2 separate regions of the Homo sapiens genome follow, and region 1 is linked to region 2. The links come from fine-mapping of genetic effects on gene expression. Tissue or cell type: sun-exposed skin. Region 2 holds a variant in brackets; the other region holds the start of a gene. All regions are shown on one strand. Distances are between the middles of the regions.

The links. PIP is the estimated chance that this variant, and not a neighbour inherited with it, causes the effect.
Region 1: ODF2L starts here. The variant in region 2 is fine-mapped to the expression of ODF2L in sun-exposed skin (GTEx, PIP 0.96).

Annotation. Positions count from the first base shown.
Region 1 is chr1:86,393,246-86,401,356 of GRCh38, forward strand. ODF2L (outer dense fiber of sperm tails 2 like) reads right to left here and starts at 3,078. Exons shown (of 17, transcript NM_001366781.1): 1 at 2,788-3,078. RefSeq lists an enhancer at 3,003-3,052.
Region 2 is chr1:86,294,710-86,302,820 of GRCh38, forward strand. All of the region lies in intron 3 of LINC02795 (long intergenic non-protein coding RNA 2795), which reads right to left. Among named protein-coding and RNA genes, the nearest start is that of LINC02795, 21 kb to the right of the region's middle. The variant C/T (reference allele first, on the strand shown) is at 3,369.

The DNA.
Region 1 (8,111 bases), 99 kb after region 2:
GGCTTCAAACACAGCTTCTACTGAAAAAAGTCACCATGGCATATTCAGCAAGGAACACAAAGTAGATACAGGAATCCTCTTTTTTTCCCCCTACTATTCTGGACACTAGTCAAACGTTTACTAGAGAGGTAATTGTATGAAAAAAAAAAAAAGGATAGGAATCTTGGAAACAGGCAAAAAGCTGGAAAATAAATCTTATGCGTAAAAGCTACCAAAATGGAAAAAACGTTTTCTGATACAGAGAGATTAGATTAGATAACAAATTAGTAATCCCTCTCTCCAATGAAAAAAGAAGGATGTATATTTAAAAGATGGGCTGCAGACTGGATAATATAGGAAGAAGAGTTGACAGCAAGAGTGACTGTTCTGTAAACACGGCATGTACTTCAAAGCCAACATTCCATTTCCTTCTCAAAGTGTTGCCCTGATTTCTCCAGCCCATCAAGAACTCTAAACAAAAGTATTTTCAGAATCATATAGTTTAGAATTTAACTGCTCCATAAATGCTCATATTTTAGTTCTCTTTTAAACTTGCTATTAACTGTGAGGACAAATAATACGCATCACTCTCTGCCCTAAAAAATTACCTAACACAGTGGGGAGCATAGATTAGGTTCTCAAATATAAGTTAGGGTGACTAAATTATTTACTGTTTAAACTCGGACACTTTTGAGTGTCCATATAGAGCCCAATTACCCGGAAAAAGACCTGGCCAAAGATGTTCAGAATATTGTCTAATCCCAAATAAAGTCACCATCCTGTACCAGACAAACATAAAGCATATTCCTTTCCTTCAACACGACAGCTGTTGCCATTTACTGAGCAGAGCACTGACTGACCTTATAAACATCATCTCACAAAAGCTTCACAAGGTTGTTATTAAAAAGCTATAAATAAGTAAATTAAATCTTAGAAGGGTTAAATAGCTTGTCCAAGATTACAAGTAAGGAATTGGTGGAACTCAGTTTTGAATTAAAAGCCATGAGATGGTGAAACCGCATCTCTACTAAAAATACAAAAATTAGCTAGGCGTGGTGGTGGGCACCTGTAGTCCCAGCTACTCGAGAGGCTGAGGCAGGAGAATCACTTGAACCCGGGAGGCGGACGTTGCAGTGAGCCGAGATCGCGCCACTGCACTCCACTGCGGCAGAGCGAGACTCCATCTCAAAAAAAAAAAAAAGCCATGAGATACTAAAACATAAATATAAAAATCTACAAAGCAAAAAGTAACACACAAACTTGCCTTTATTCAGTCAGGTTTTAATACTCATAAGTTCAATTTAGATTCAAAAGATGAAAACTGTTCTGGACAAGGAAATGAGTGATGAATGAGCTAGCTAAAAGCACAGACTACAATTCTAAAGAGAGAGAGCAGACCGCGACCAGATCACTAAATTCCATTGTTCTAAAGTTTGTCACAAGGAACTTTTGGGATAGAAAAACTACACTATAAATACACATCCATTGTGAAATAAGAAGATGAAAAAGAGAAGCAAAAAGCAAATCATAAACATGATCATGACATTCTTACTATAAGCAGAATATCAAACTAATTTCAAAAGCAGACAGGTTTTCTGCAGTTTGTTTCTTTTTCCTTTTTTTTTTTTTTTTTTGAGACAGAGTCTCGCGCTGTCGCCCAGGCTGGAGTGCAGTGGCGCGATCTCGGCTCACGGCAAGCTCCGCCTCCTGGGTTCACGCCATTCTCCTGCCTCAGCCTCCCGAGTAGCTGGGACTACGGGCGCCCGCCACCACGCCCGGATAACTTTTTGTATTTGTTTTAGTAGAGACGGGGTTTCACCGTGTTGGCCAGGATGGTCTCGATCTCCTAACCTCGTGATCCGCCCGCCTCGGCCTCCCAAAGTGCTGGGATTACAGGCGTGAGCCACCGCGCCCGGCCCGGTTTGTTTCTTTAACCTTAACTCAGTTGCACTTAAAACTCCAAGAACCTCATTCATTCAAAAACACTTGAAACCGTACTATGCGTTGCGTGATGAGGAAACTGTCTTCGAAATAGATTTTATCCCCAACAGCAGCCCCAGTATGGTTATTCTCAGTAAACAACAAGCACCACCACTCACTAACCACCTACATTCGGTGCCACCTTAATGGCCCTGCGTTTACTTAATCTCGTATTACAACCACCCCAAAGTGATGATTACTGTTACAGTTATCAGTAAGGAATCCAGGAAGGTTCAGTGACCTAGACAAGGCCACACAGCGGGTTCAGTGGCAGAGCTGGGACTGAACACAAGTCGGCCTTTAGCACTCTCCACGACCCTAGGTCAATCCCGCACTACAGGGGTCGCCTATAGGGGCTGGAACCTAGAGGAATCCTGGAGAAGGAATTATTTCCTGAGGATTCCTGTAATATACCTCACTTACGAAGCCCCCAGGGCTTCCTACAATCTGATATATCACATGATGGGCGATTAAAAACCAGCCCAATGATTAAGAGGTCACTATTTCTGAAAGAAATGCAACCATATCCAGGAACGGCCCGGTCAGGACTTCGTTCTGCACAAGCCCACCTCACGCTAACATTTGCCCTGATGTCCCGGGGACCACACCCTTCCTAAGAGTGAGTCTCGCCGCCCTTTTCCCAGGCCAGGTAGTCAGCCTGAGGGAGGTGGAGGGTTTGCGCGGAGGGGGCTGGGTGGGCGCGAGGGCCTTTTACTTCCGGGACCCACCACTGCCCTCACCTCCAGACCGCTAAGGGCTCCCGCGGTAAACGCCCAGCAGCAGCTAGGCTCCCCACAAAGTCGCCCCCAACCCAAAAGGCGTACTTACGCCCCCGCCGCTGCGTCCGCACGTCGTCGTGACGACAGCCCGCCGTCGCCGCGATATAAAAAAAGGGTCAGAGGCGCCACGGCTGCTGCAATGGAAACCGTGGCAATCCTTCTTGTGCTCTGAGTCGGCTAGGAGGGAGCGGGACGCAGGGGGCACTACAGTGGGTAGACTAGGAAGGAAGGCAAGGGACGCGAGGTGGGAACCAGGCGAATTCCTAGACCTGCTTGCCGCAGAAGAGTGCCCGCTCAAGTGGAACAAAAGCGCAGCTAGTAACCGGCTAGTGGCTTCTCTGGCAACGGCGGCCCCACCCCTCCCGTCAGGCCCGCAGCAGGCTGCCGATTGGTCCGGGTTAGGGACGGCGGGCAGCGCCTATAGCTATTGGAGAGGGTGAGGAACGGGGCAGGGAGGGCAGCTTCGTGTCTATCCTTGTTTCTCGGGTAAACATTTTTTTTTAAGCGTTTGTTTATGGACAAGGACAGCATTTGTGTACGTTACCGAAAATCATAACCGAGCCCAACTAGAAAAAAAGGAAATAAAGCCAATTCCGAGTTTTCTGGCGCTTGGCCTGGTTGTGCCCTGCTTTTGCTTTTTAAAGAGAAGATTTGAAAACGTGAAGGCAACTGCGACCGGAAGAAACCTCCTTTTAAATGTATAGTAGTATTTTTAGCTGAGATGCCTCCCTGGGCCTCAGGTTTTTTCCTGTTAAATGAGGAAGCCTGAGGATGTTCTGCAAGGTGCCTTCAGGGTCTCAAAGTCTTTCGTATCTGTGCCACAGCCAGCTGGTCTGGTTTATAAAGTCCTGAAGAAGCAAAGCAAGATTTTAATTGGAAAAATATCTTCATTCAATGCCTCTACTTAATATTCATGTTAAGAATCGTACACCAACCTATGAAGTTCACAAGTAGAGTAACTGTCAACTAAGCCATAACCGTGGCATGCTGCTACCTAAATAATTGGTTTCACTAAAGCACTCCAGCAATGTTTTTCCACCAGTACTGTAATTGTCCCTTTCATAATTTAAAGCGGGAGACAGAATTAGTAAATTTTTTAGTAAAGGGCCAGTGATATGGTTAGGCTCTGAGTCCCCGACCACATCCCATCTTGAATTGTAATCCCCATAATCCCCACGTGTCAAGAGAGAAACCAGGTGAAGGTAATTGAATCATGGGGGCAGTTCCATAATCCCCACGTGTCAAGAGAGAGACCAGATGAAGGTAATGGAATCATGGGGGCCGTTTACCCCCATGCTAGTGAGTTCTCAAGCTATCTGATGGTTTTGTAAGGGGCTCTTTCCCCTCCACTGGGCACTTCTCCTTAACGAAGAAGGTGTCCTGCTTCCCCTTCACCTTCCGTCATGATTGTAAGTTTCCTGAGGCCTCCCCAGCGACGCTGAACTGTGAGTCAATTAAACCCCTTTCCTTTATAAATTACCCAGTCTCAGGCAATTCTTTATAGCAGTATGAAAATGTGCTCATACAGCCAGATAATATTTTATTAATAGGTTTTGCAGGTCATATGGTCTCTGTGATACTATTTAACTCTGCCATTGTCTTACCAAGAAAAGCCATAGATGATACATAAACATAAACATATGAGCTCACTAAAGTACGTTTGTGTGCAGGATGCAACACTACAGTGTTGGGTAGAAATTGTGATTTCTATCTTCATGGCAACAAATGGGGACTAGAATGTAAAAATAGCAGGCAATGAAATAGAATAAAGATACTTGAATACAAATAATACTTCAAAATTAAAAAGCAACATTTTAGATAACCTGTTTGCAGAGGACAAACAGAAGGTTAAATGAAAGTGTGATGGAGAATCACCACCTTTACATCTTTGCACTCTTTAATAGTGCCACTAATCACTGGAATTCCCCTAGGACTATGGTATTGCCTTTGGTTTAATCTTTTAGTAGATAAGGGCAGTTCCAAAGGCTTCCACTTTGTCTTCCTATTATAATAGCCATGAGTCAAAAAGCCAATGTCAAGATGCTGTAAATCTCCTTTAAGGTTATGACATTCAGGTCTCTTCATTAGTTCTGGTAAATTTTTTGCTGTACAAATTAAGTAGAATCTTAGCAGACTATCCATTTCAATTATAGGGGCAGTGATTAATTATCAACTCCTAAAGATCCCCCTTAGTCAAACAATATGATACACCCTGCTGGTATCATGGTATCAACAGATATCTCATCTCTGATGGCTCAGTGGTATCACTTGGCCTCTATCACTTTGGGATCTTACTATTTCCATTAGGGAATTAGGGATTTCATGCAATGGCAGCATCTTTATCCCCAGGCTTATAGAATAGCAGCTACAGAGCTTTTAAAGGATTCTGGCATTCCCTATATTTTCTCAATGCTTTAGTAAAAAGAAGGTCCTTTGGCCCTCTCAGAACACCTTTGAAAGGAGATGACTGGGTAACATATGATAAATCCATTCATACAGTACTATTCCCTAAGTCTTCTTTAAAAATTGATACATACTAGATGTACATATTTTCAGGGTACATGTGATAATTGGATACATTTATATGAATGTGTAATGTGTAAAGATCAAATCAAGATAGTCAGGATATCCATCACCTTAAATATTTATCTTTATGCTATGAACATTCAAATTGTTCTCTTCTAGTTATTTTGAAATATACAATAGATTATAGTTAACTATAGTCACCCTACTTATCTGTCAAACACTGGGTCTTATTTCTTCTATCTAACTGTATGTCTGCACTCATTAATCAACCTCTCTTCGTTACCCCTTTCCCTAAGTCTTTTAATTCAATCCTCTAAAATCAAGAGATTTCTAACATCTCAACTTTATTTAGTTTCAATCAACCAACTGAGCAAACCTTGACAGCCACTCCTAGATGTTCAAAGCAAGAACAGTGAATTATGGTCTCTGGTAAATGTATTCATATTAATATCTTGGTCTCATCAAAAATATTCCTTCATCCCTGGTCTGCCACACTTGGAATTCATTATCATTTTCTATAGTCTTCTGCCAATATAAATAAGCAAAATCTTGCACTTTTTTGGTATGAAACCCTTCTCCCAGGTCAGATCTTTTATTATACCCTGGAACATGTTGGGATCTAACTTTAGATCTAGACCAGTGGTTCTTGACATTTTTTTTGCCACAGCCAAAGAGGAAGGGCAAGTGTCCTACTGGCATCTAGTGAGTAGAGGCTAGAGATGCTGTTAAACATCTGCAATGCACGGGACATCCTCCACAACAAAATGTCAACAGTGCTGACATTAAGAAACCCCGGTCCAATATGGAGAATACAAAGGCCACCAGCCACCTATAGCTATTTCAAACATTTGAAATGTGATGATTCTGAATTGAGACATGTTGTAAATGCAAAATACACACATTTTGCATATGAAAAAGAACATAAAATATCTTGATTTTCATACTGATTATGTCGAAATGATATTTTGGAAGGCAGCTATACTCACCACTATACCACCAATGCCACCAGAAATGATATTTTGTTTATGTTGAGTTAAATAAAATATATTACCAAAATTTAACCACAACTATTTCTTTTTCACTATTTTAAGAGTAGCTAGTAGAAGATTTTAAATTACGTATGTGGCTCACATTATATTTCTACTAGGTGATGTAGTCTAGAGGTATAAAGAACTGATAACAGTTGAGTTCTGAGAACAATCAGTTCTTCTCAATTGATTCACAAGGTAAATTCCTCAGATTAAGTTACTTCAGAATTTTCAAGGAGTACAAGACCAGCCCTATAGATAGGAAGGGAGGAGTTCTTCAGAAAGCAAAAAGCTCTGTAGTGTCTGCGTATTAAGATAATAGAGCTATCCGAATTCACCCAACCTCTCTATCACAACTCTAAAGATCCAACTCCTTCCCAATCAATGCCTTAATTTCTTACATAAGAGACCTGAGGAGTCTGTTTATTCAACTTACCTTGTAATTTAGCTCTTCACAGCATTAATACTTGATTTGGATGTGTCATCCCAGCAATTAATAAAGTTTTAAGGTAATCATAGAAGTTCTCTGGGCCTCTGAGCTTATCACATTTTTCTTTAAGCATCCTAGTACAGTCATAAATAGAAAAATCACCCCACAATCTTTGTATTCTTCATTCCTGCCATTCCCAACAAAGGTATGCCTTCAGTGACTACTTAATTCCTGAGGATTATAGGCCACTTTTAAATGGTTGTATAATTTATATTCAATAAAGTACATATGTATTAAATGTTCAGAGTATGACTTTTGCCAATTATATAATTATATGCACTCATGAAAATAATACCTAAAACAAAATTTAGAACATTTATGTCAGTCCAAAGTGTTTATTTGTATCTGTCTGTAGCTTGTCAGTTCACCAAAACTACCCTCATGCCTCTCCATCCTCCCCTAGCCCACACACAGAGAGACTACTACTTTCTAATTTATATGACTAGAGGTTAATATTGCCTATTCTTGGTGTTCATATAAATGGAATCACACAATATATATTCCTTTTTGTCTGACTTCTTTCATTCAAATAGGCATGTGTGTGTGTATATATGTATATATGTGTATATACATATATATACACACCCACATATTTGAATGAATATATATATATATATATAGCGAGAGAGAGAGATTGAGATTCATCCATGTTGTTGCATATTTTAGTAGTTTGTTCTTTTTTTTTGAGATTGAGATTCATCCATGTTGTTGCATAGTTTAGTAGTTTTTTTTTTTTTTTTTTTTTTTGGCTGAGTAGTTGATATAGTTTGCATGTTTGTCCTCTCCAAATCTCATGTTGAAATGTAATCCCCAGTGTTGGAGGTGGGGTCTGATGTTGGAAGTGTCAGATCATGGGGGCATATCCCTCATGAATGGTTTAGTACCATCCCCTTGATGATAAGTGAGTTTTGGTCTGAATTCATGTGAGACCTGTTGTTTAAAAGTGTGTTGCACCTCTCCAATCCCAACTCTTGCTGCTGCTCTCATCATGTGATGTGGTTGCTCCCCTTAACCTTCTTGTAAGCCATAATTATAAGCTTCTTGAAGCCCTCACAGAACCCCAGCAGATGTTGGTGCAATGCTTGTACAGCCTATAGAACTATGAGCCAATTAAACCTCTTTTCTTTATAAATTACCCAGCCTCAGGTATTTCTTTATAGCAACGTAAGAACAGCCTACTATATAGTAGTATTTCATTGTGTAAATATACCACAATTTGCTTATTAGTGCTCCTGTTGATAGATATTTAGGTTGTTGGCAGCTTCTAGTTATTAATGAATAAGGCTGCTATAAGCATTCTTTAAAACGCATTTTATTAACATATGCTTT
Region 2 (8,111 bases):
ACTGTCGCCTGGGCTGGAGTGCAGTGGTGCTATCTCGGCTCGCTGCAGCCTCCGCCTCCTAGGTTCAAGCGATTCTCCTGTCTCAGCCTCCCAAGTAGCTGGGATTACAGCTGCCAGCTACCATGCCTGGCTAATTTTTTGTATTTTTAGTAGAGACGGGGTTTTACTATGTTGACCAGGTGGGTCCCGAACTCCTGACCTTGTGATCCACCTGCCTCGGCCTCCCAAAGTGTTGGAATTACAGGAATAAGCCACCATGCCCAGCCTATTTTTCTTATATTATGTCATTCAGGGACTGTGTCCTTTGATTCTAACCAATGCAGGATTTTTTTTATCCATATGTATCGAACAAGGTCAATAATAAAAGAAATGATTGAATTTGCATTGGAAAATAAATATTTCCTTCTCCTCATACTTCTTGGAGAATGTTTTAACAGTCTCCAGCCAAAGTTTGAAACTTCTTAATTTAAAACTTTTTCTTTTCACTCATTCTCAGTTTTTGTGGAGAAGTAGCAAATAGGCTTCCACTCATGTACCAACCCTCACTAATTTGGTGCTTTGGGTTTTTTTTTTTTTTTGAGACAGGGTCTCACTCTGTCACCTAGGCTAGAGTGCAGTAACTTGATCACAGCTCACTGCAACCTTTACCTACCTGGTCCCTGACTTATTTTTTATGGCCACCAGATGCTGTATGTTCTATATTTTTTTAGTACTATTTCTACCTTTTTATATTAATTTTTTTTAAATTTCTGAATTATAACTTTTTCTGGTATGAGAGATAATAGTTACTTTTCAGTGAATAGCCAATTGTCTAGCAATAATTATTAAATTGATGTAAATGTCAATTTTATCATATGGTGAAATCCCATAGATATGGCTATTTTGTTTTTAAACTCTTCTCTGTTCTACTGTTCCTCTTTTATGTAGTCAAAACTATATTGATAGTAATGATAAAAATGGCTTTAGAGTTATAATGTCTAGATTAGAATTATATTTTCATTGTTTACTGGCTATTTAATTTTTTGCAAATGTATCTTTTCTAGGCCTCAGTTTCTTCCTCTAAGTATTAGGTCTTAAAAATGCTATCTACTTCATAAGGTTTGGAAGATAATTAAATGACATCAGGTATGTAAAACATAGCACAGTGTCCAGCACACAGTAAGCCTTCAATAAATGTCATTAAAAACAATAATAGTAATAAAGCTTTATAGTGTGTTTTCATACCTAGTAGGTAAGTCCTCTCATGTTATACTTTTTCAAAAAAAAATTTATTTGCTTGTTTCACCTGTTACCAACCCCATTGCCTCTGTGTTAAGTAAGAGTGACTCTCCAAGATCCACCACAAGATTGCAGGAGAAATGCAGAATGGTGGGAACAGATCTTCCAGAGTCACTTTGTTACTAACATTCAGTCAACTGTAGGGAGGAGAGTGGAAGGGACAAATATAGTCTTTCTGTGATCGGTATGCCTTCTCTCACTCAAACAACACAGCTCACAATGATTAGCAACAGTTCTAGAAAAAAGTGGCCTTTTTTTTGACACGTCTTTTCAGAGAATGCTTTCTTGCTACTTCTCCCCAGCTTTGCAGTTAAATAATTACATTCTTCAGAAATCCTCTTGCTTCTATAAACTAAAAATAAAATCCTAAGTCCCTCAAACTGACTGGATGGACCCTGCCCCCTTGGCCAAGGGGACTCCGGAGAAACCTTACAAATTTAGTTCCCAGCCATGACAGGATGGGAGGCCCGACACCCCTTGTTACACCCGCCTCCTTTTGTGGTTTAGACACAACTGACCAGCAGTAATGTCAAAATAGATATCATATGACTGACAGAATGGACTTTTTGTGGAAATAAGATACCAGATTATAAATAGGACCTAAGGCCATGCCAGAGAAAGATTAAATCATACACCCTACAGTTAAAGAATAAACTACGTGCAAAGTGCTACAAGGTTTTTCTTTTTCTCTAGAAGCTAAACAAGCACTGGCCTTGAAATAAACAATATTAAAACAATTGCAACTCACCACCAGATGCTCACTAACTGACACCCTGTTCCACGAGCCTTGATTGGACAACAGACTGATTTCTGTAACTTTCTTCTGATGAGAGATCACTTATTATGAACTGGTTCTGGTGGGTTTTACAGAGACTGCACACTGGAATGCCTTCGTGTCCCTGCTTCACCTTTTGGCCTAGCTGTAATACATTTAAATGTTAATCTTCCACCCCTAAGTGAACATGGGTGGTGTGTAATATGCATGAGGACCACCTTCATGAATATTAATAGCTCCTCCTGTAACCTGTTGAATATGTATACTTGGCCAACCCATTCAAAAGGAATCCCTGTTCCATCCGCCTCTGCCTCAAAGTGCTTTTTTTAGATGGTGGTTGTGCTTCCTGCCTGGAGGTTGTAATCTCCTTCTTAAGAAATAAAGCTCATAAGCTCATCCAACTGAATGATGAGGAACCAAAAAAGAAAAAAAGGAAATAAATCTCTCTTTTTCTAAATTTATACATTGTTATACATAGTGATTTTTAAGTTAATACTTCTTATCATCCCTTTACTCTCATCATGTTTAGCACAAACTAGCCATTGTCTGTTCTGTCATTGCAGAATTACATACTATACTGAATAATTTGGAGAGAAATTTACCTCACCAGATCCTAGCTAGGAATAGGCACGTCTGTCCATTTATTTATTTTGTTCCTTAGCAAAGGTTTTTTTTTGTTGTTGTTGTTTTGTTTGTTTTTACTTTAAGTTTTGGGATACATGTGCAGAATGTGCAGGTTTGTTACATAGGTATACATGTGCCATGGTTGTTTGCTGCACTTAACCCATCATCTAGGTTTTAAGCCCCATATGCATTAGGTATTTGTCCTAATGCCCTCCCTCCCCTTGCCCCCACCCCCCAACAGGCCCCAGTGTGTGATGGTCCCCTCTCTGTGTCCATGTGTTCTCATTGTCCAACTCCCACTTATGAGTGAGAACATGCAGTGTTTGGTTTTCTGTTCCTGTGTTAGTTTGCTAAGAATGATGGTTTCCAGCTTCATCTATGTCCCTGAAAAGGACATGAACTCATTCTTTTTTATGGCTGCATAGTATTCCATGATGTATATGTGCCACGTTTTCTTTATCCAGTCTATCATTGATGGGCATTTGGGTTGGTTCCAAGTCTTTGCTATTGTAAATAGTGCTGCAGTAAGCATATGTGTGTGTGTGTCTTTATAGTAGAATGATTTATAATCCTTTGTGGGTATATACCCAGTAATGGGATTGCTAGGTCAAATGGTATTCCTGGTTCTAGATCCTTGAGGAATTGCCACACTGTCTTCCACAATGGTTGAACTAATTTACACTCCCACCAA[C/T]GGTGTAAAAACTTCCTATTTCTCCACAGCCTTGCCAGCCCTTAGCAAAGTTTTAATAGTGCTCTAACTTCCCTTATCCCTTCCTTTCTCTCTCTCTTTCTTCTTTATTTCCTTTCTTCCATGTTATATAGAGTTAAATATTTTTTAATTTTTGTGGGTACATACTAAGCATATATATTTATGAGGTACATGAGATGTTTTGATGCAGGCATGCAATGTGAAATAAGCACTTCATGGAGAATAAAATACCCATCCCCGAAGCATTTATCCTTTGAGTTACAAATAATCCAGTTATACACTTTAAGTTATTTTTAAAATGTACAGTTGTTATTGTTGACTATATTCACCCTTCTGTGCTATCAAATACTAGATCTTATTAATTCTTTCTATTTTTTGTACCCGTTAACCATCCCTACCTACCCCCGGCCCAACCTCCCACTACCCTTCCTAGCCTCTGATAACCATCCTTCTACTCTTTATGTCCATGAGTTAAATTGATTTGATTTTTAGATCCCACAAATAAGTGAGAACATGTGATGTTTGTCTTTCTGTGCCTGGTTTATTTTACTTAACATAATCACCTCCAGTTCCATTCATGTTGCTGCAGATGATTAGATCTCATTCTTTCTATGGCTAAACAGTACTCCATTGTGCATATGTACCACATTTTCTTTATCCATTCACCTATTGATGGACACTTCGGTTGCTTCCAAATATTAGCTATTGTAAACAGTGCTGCAACAAACATAAGAGTGGAGATATCTCTTCAATATACTAATTTCCTTTCTTTTGGGTATATACCCAGTAATGGGATTGCTGGATCATATGATAGCTCCATTTTTAGTGTTTTGAGGAACCTCCAAACTGTTCTCCATAGTGGTTGTACTAATTTACATTCTCACCAACAGTGTACAATGGTTCCCTTTTCTCCACATCCTCACCAGCATTTGTTATTGCCTGTCTTTTGGATATAAGCCATTTTAACTCAGGTGAGATGATTTCTCATTATAGTTTTGATTTGCATTTCTCTGATGGTCAGTGCTGCTGAGCAGTTTTTCATATGCCTTTTGCTCATTTTTTATTGGGTGATTAAATTTTTCCCATATAGTTGTTTGAGCTCCTTACAGATTCTGATTATTATTCCTTGTCAGATGGGTAGTTTGCAAATATTTTCTCCCATTCTGTGGTTGTCTTTTTATTAATTGTATCCTTTGCTGTACAGAAGATTTTTAACTTGATATGATCCCATTTGTCTAATTTTGCTTTAGCTCCCTGTGTTTGTGGGGCATTGCTTAAGAAATCTTTGCCCAGACCAATGTCTAGGAGATATCCCCCAATGTTTTCCCATAGTAGTTTCATAGTTTGAAGTCTTATATTTATAAGCATTTAATCCATTTTGATTTGATTTTTGTATATGGAAAGATAGAGGTCTAGTTTCATTCTTTGGCATATGGATATCCAGTTTTCCCAAAATCATTTACTGAAGATACTATCTTTTTCCCAGTGTATGTTCTTGGCACCTTTGACAAAAATGAGTTCACTGTAGGTGTGTGGATTTATTTCTGGGTTCTCTATTCTGTTCCATTGGTCTATATGTCTTTTGTTACGCCAATACCATGCTATTTTGGTTACCATATCTCTGTAGTATATTTTGAAGTCAGATAATGTGATTCCTCCTGTTTTGTTGTTTCTGTGTAGGATAGCTTTGGCTATTCTGGGTCTTTCGTGGTTCTATGTAAATTTTAGGATTTTTTTCTATTTCTGTGAATAATGTCATTGGTACTTTGATAGGGATGGCATTAAATCTGTAAACTGCTTTGGGTAGTATGGACATTTTAACAATATTGATTCTTCCAATTCAGGAACATGAAATATTTTTCAATTTTTTGTTGTCCTCTTCAATTTTTTCTTTAGTGTTTTATAGTTTTCATTACAGAGATCTTTCATTTCTTTGGTTAACTCCTAGGTATTTAATTTTATGTGTGGCTGTTGTAATTGGGATTACTTTTTTATTTCTTTGTTTAGGTGGAGTCATTAGGTTATTCCAAATATAACATCATATCATCTGCGAACAAGGATAATTTGACTTCTTGTTTTCCAATTTGGACTCCCTTTATATCTATCTTTCTCTTGTCAGATTGCCCTAGATAGGGCTTCCAGAACTATGTTGAATAACAGTGGTGACAGTGGACATCTTGTCATGTTCAGGATTTTAGAGGAAAGGCTTTCAGTTTTTCCCCATTCAGTATGATACTAGCTGTGGGTCTGTCACATATGGTGTTTATTATGTTGAAGGGTGTTCCTTCTATACCAAGTTTTTAGAGGACTTTTATCATGAAGAGATGTTTAATTTTATCAAATGCCTTTTCAGCATCAATTGAAATGATCATATGGTTTTTATCCTTCATTCTGTTGATATCACATTTATTAATTTGCATATGTTGAACCGTCCTTGCATCCCAGGGGTAAATCCCACTTTGTCATGATGAATAATCTTTCTAAAGTATTGTTGAGTTTGGTTTTCTAGTATTTTATTGAGGATTTCTGCATCAATATTCATCAGCAACATTGCCCTGTAGTTTTCTTTTCTTTTCTTTTTTATTTTTTTTAATGTGTCTTTGTCTGGTTTTGGTATTAAGGTAATACTGGCCTTGCAGAATGAGCTTGGAAGGATTCCCTCACTCCTGCATTTTTCTGAATAACTTGAGTAGGATTAGTATTAGTTCTTCTTTAAATGTTTGGTAAAGTTCAACAGTGAATCCATCAGGTCTCCAGTTTTTCTTTACTGGAAGACTTTTTATTAAGGCTTCAATCTCATTACTTGTTATTGGTCTGTTCGGGTTTTGGATTTCTTCCTGCTTCAATCTTGGTAGGTTGTATGCATCTAGTACTTTGTCTATTTCTTCTAGATTTTCCAATTTGTTGGCATATAGTTTCTCATAGCAGCCACTAATGATCCTTTGAATTTCTGTGGTATCATTTGTAGTATCTCCTTTTTTATTTCTGATTATATTTATTTTGATCGTCTTTTTTTTTCTTAGTCTGGCTAAAGGTCTGTCGATTTTCTTTAAGTTTTCAAAAAACCGACTTTTTGTTTCATTGCTTTTTCATTTCAAATTCATTTATTTCCACACTAATCTTTACTATTTCTTCTACTAATTTTGGGTTTAGTTTGCTCTTGCTTTTCTAATTCTTTAAGATGCATCATTAGACTGTTCATTTGAAGTTTTTCCTCTTTTTTGGTGTAGGCAGTTATAGCTGTAAACTTCCCTGTTAATACTGCTTTTGCTGTATCCCATAGGTTTTGGTATGTTGTGTTTCTATTATCATTTGTTTCAAAAAAGTTTCCAATTTCCTTCTTAATTTCTTCATTGATCCACTGGTCATTCGGGAGCATATTGTTATATTTCCATGTATTTGTATAGTTTTCAAAATCCTCTTGTTACTAATTTCTAGTTTTATTCCATTGTGGTTAGAGAAGACACTTGATATTATTTCAATTTTTTAATGTTTTAAGATTAGTTTTATGACCTTACCTATGGTCTGTCTTGAGAATGATCCATGTGCTGGAGAAAACAATGCATATTCTGCAGCTCTTGGATAAAATGTTGTGTAAATATCTATTAGGTCCATTTGGTCTCTAGTGCAGATTAAACTGATATTTGTTGACTTTCTGTCTGGAAGATCTGTCCAATGCTGGAAGTGGGGTGTTGAAATCTCCATCTGTTATTGTATTGGAGCTTATCTCTCTCTTTAGCTCTAATAACATTTCCTTTATATATCTAGGTGTTCCAGTGTTGGGTGCATATATATTTAAAATTCTTATATCCTCTTGATGAATTGACCACTTTATCATTACATAGTGACCTTCTTCATCTCTTCTTATAGTTTTTGTCTTGAAATCTATCTTGTCTGATATAAGTATAGCGACTCCTCCTCTTTTTTGGTTTCCATTGGCATGGAGTATTTTTCCATCCCTTTATTTTCAGTCTATACATGTCTTTACAGGCGAAGTGTGTGTGTGTGTGTGTGTTTAGTAGGCAACAGATCAATGGGTCTTGTTTTCTCATCCATTCAGCCAGTCTCTGTGTCTTTTAATTGGAGAGTTTAGTCCATTCACATTCGATGTTATTATTAAGTAAGGACTTACTCCTGCCATGGAAACTCCTTCTGCACACATGCTTCTATAACCAGAATAGGGAGCAGTAGCGGTCTCCAGCCAGAAATAATTACTCTGACCTTAAAGGAAACACAGCATTTCTGGCTGCAACCTATTGGCTAAAACAAGCCACCTCAAATGTAAATGTCAAAGGGGTGGAATAGTGCAATCTATAAGATGCCTGGAAGAAGAAGAAGTGAAATATTCTGAATAGTGTTACTGTTTCTTTGTCTTATTCTTCACTTTAATGAGAAAGCCTCTAGGTTTTAGTACCAGGCATAATATTTGTTTTTGTAGTTGCTGATTTGTGTAAAAAGTCTTTTTTATCATAGTAAGCGAGTTATCTTTTCTTGCCATGTGTTTTTATCAGGAAGGAATGGCAAATTTTATATTTTAATATTTATAGAAATAAATATATTTTATTATATTTTTCCCTTTGAATCTGTTATATAGTTAATTATATTAATGGACTTCCTATTTCAAACTATTCTTGCATCACAGAGGGAAAACCCTACTAAATCACAGTTTATTATCACATTCTGTTATTTGTTAATGCTCTGGATTTGATATATTTAAAGTTTTGG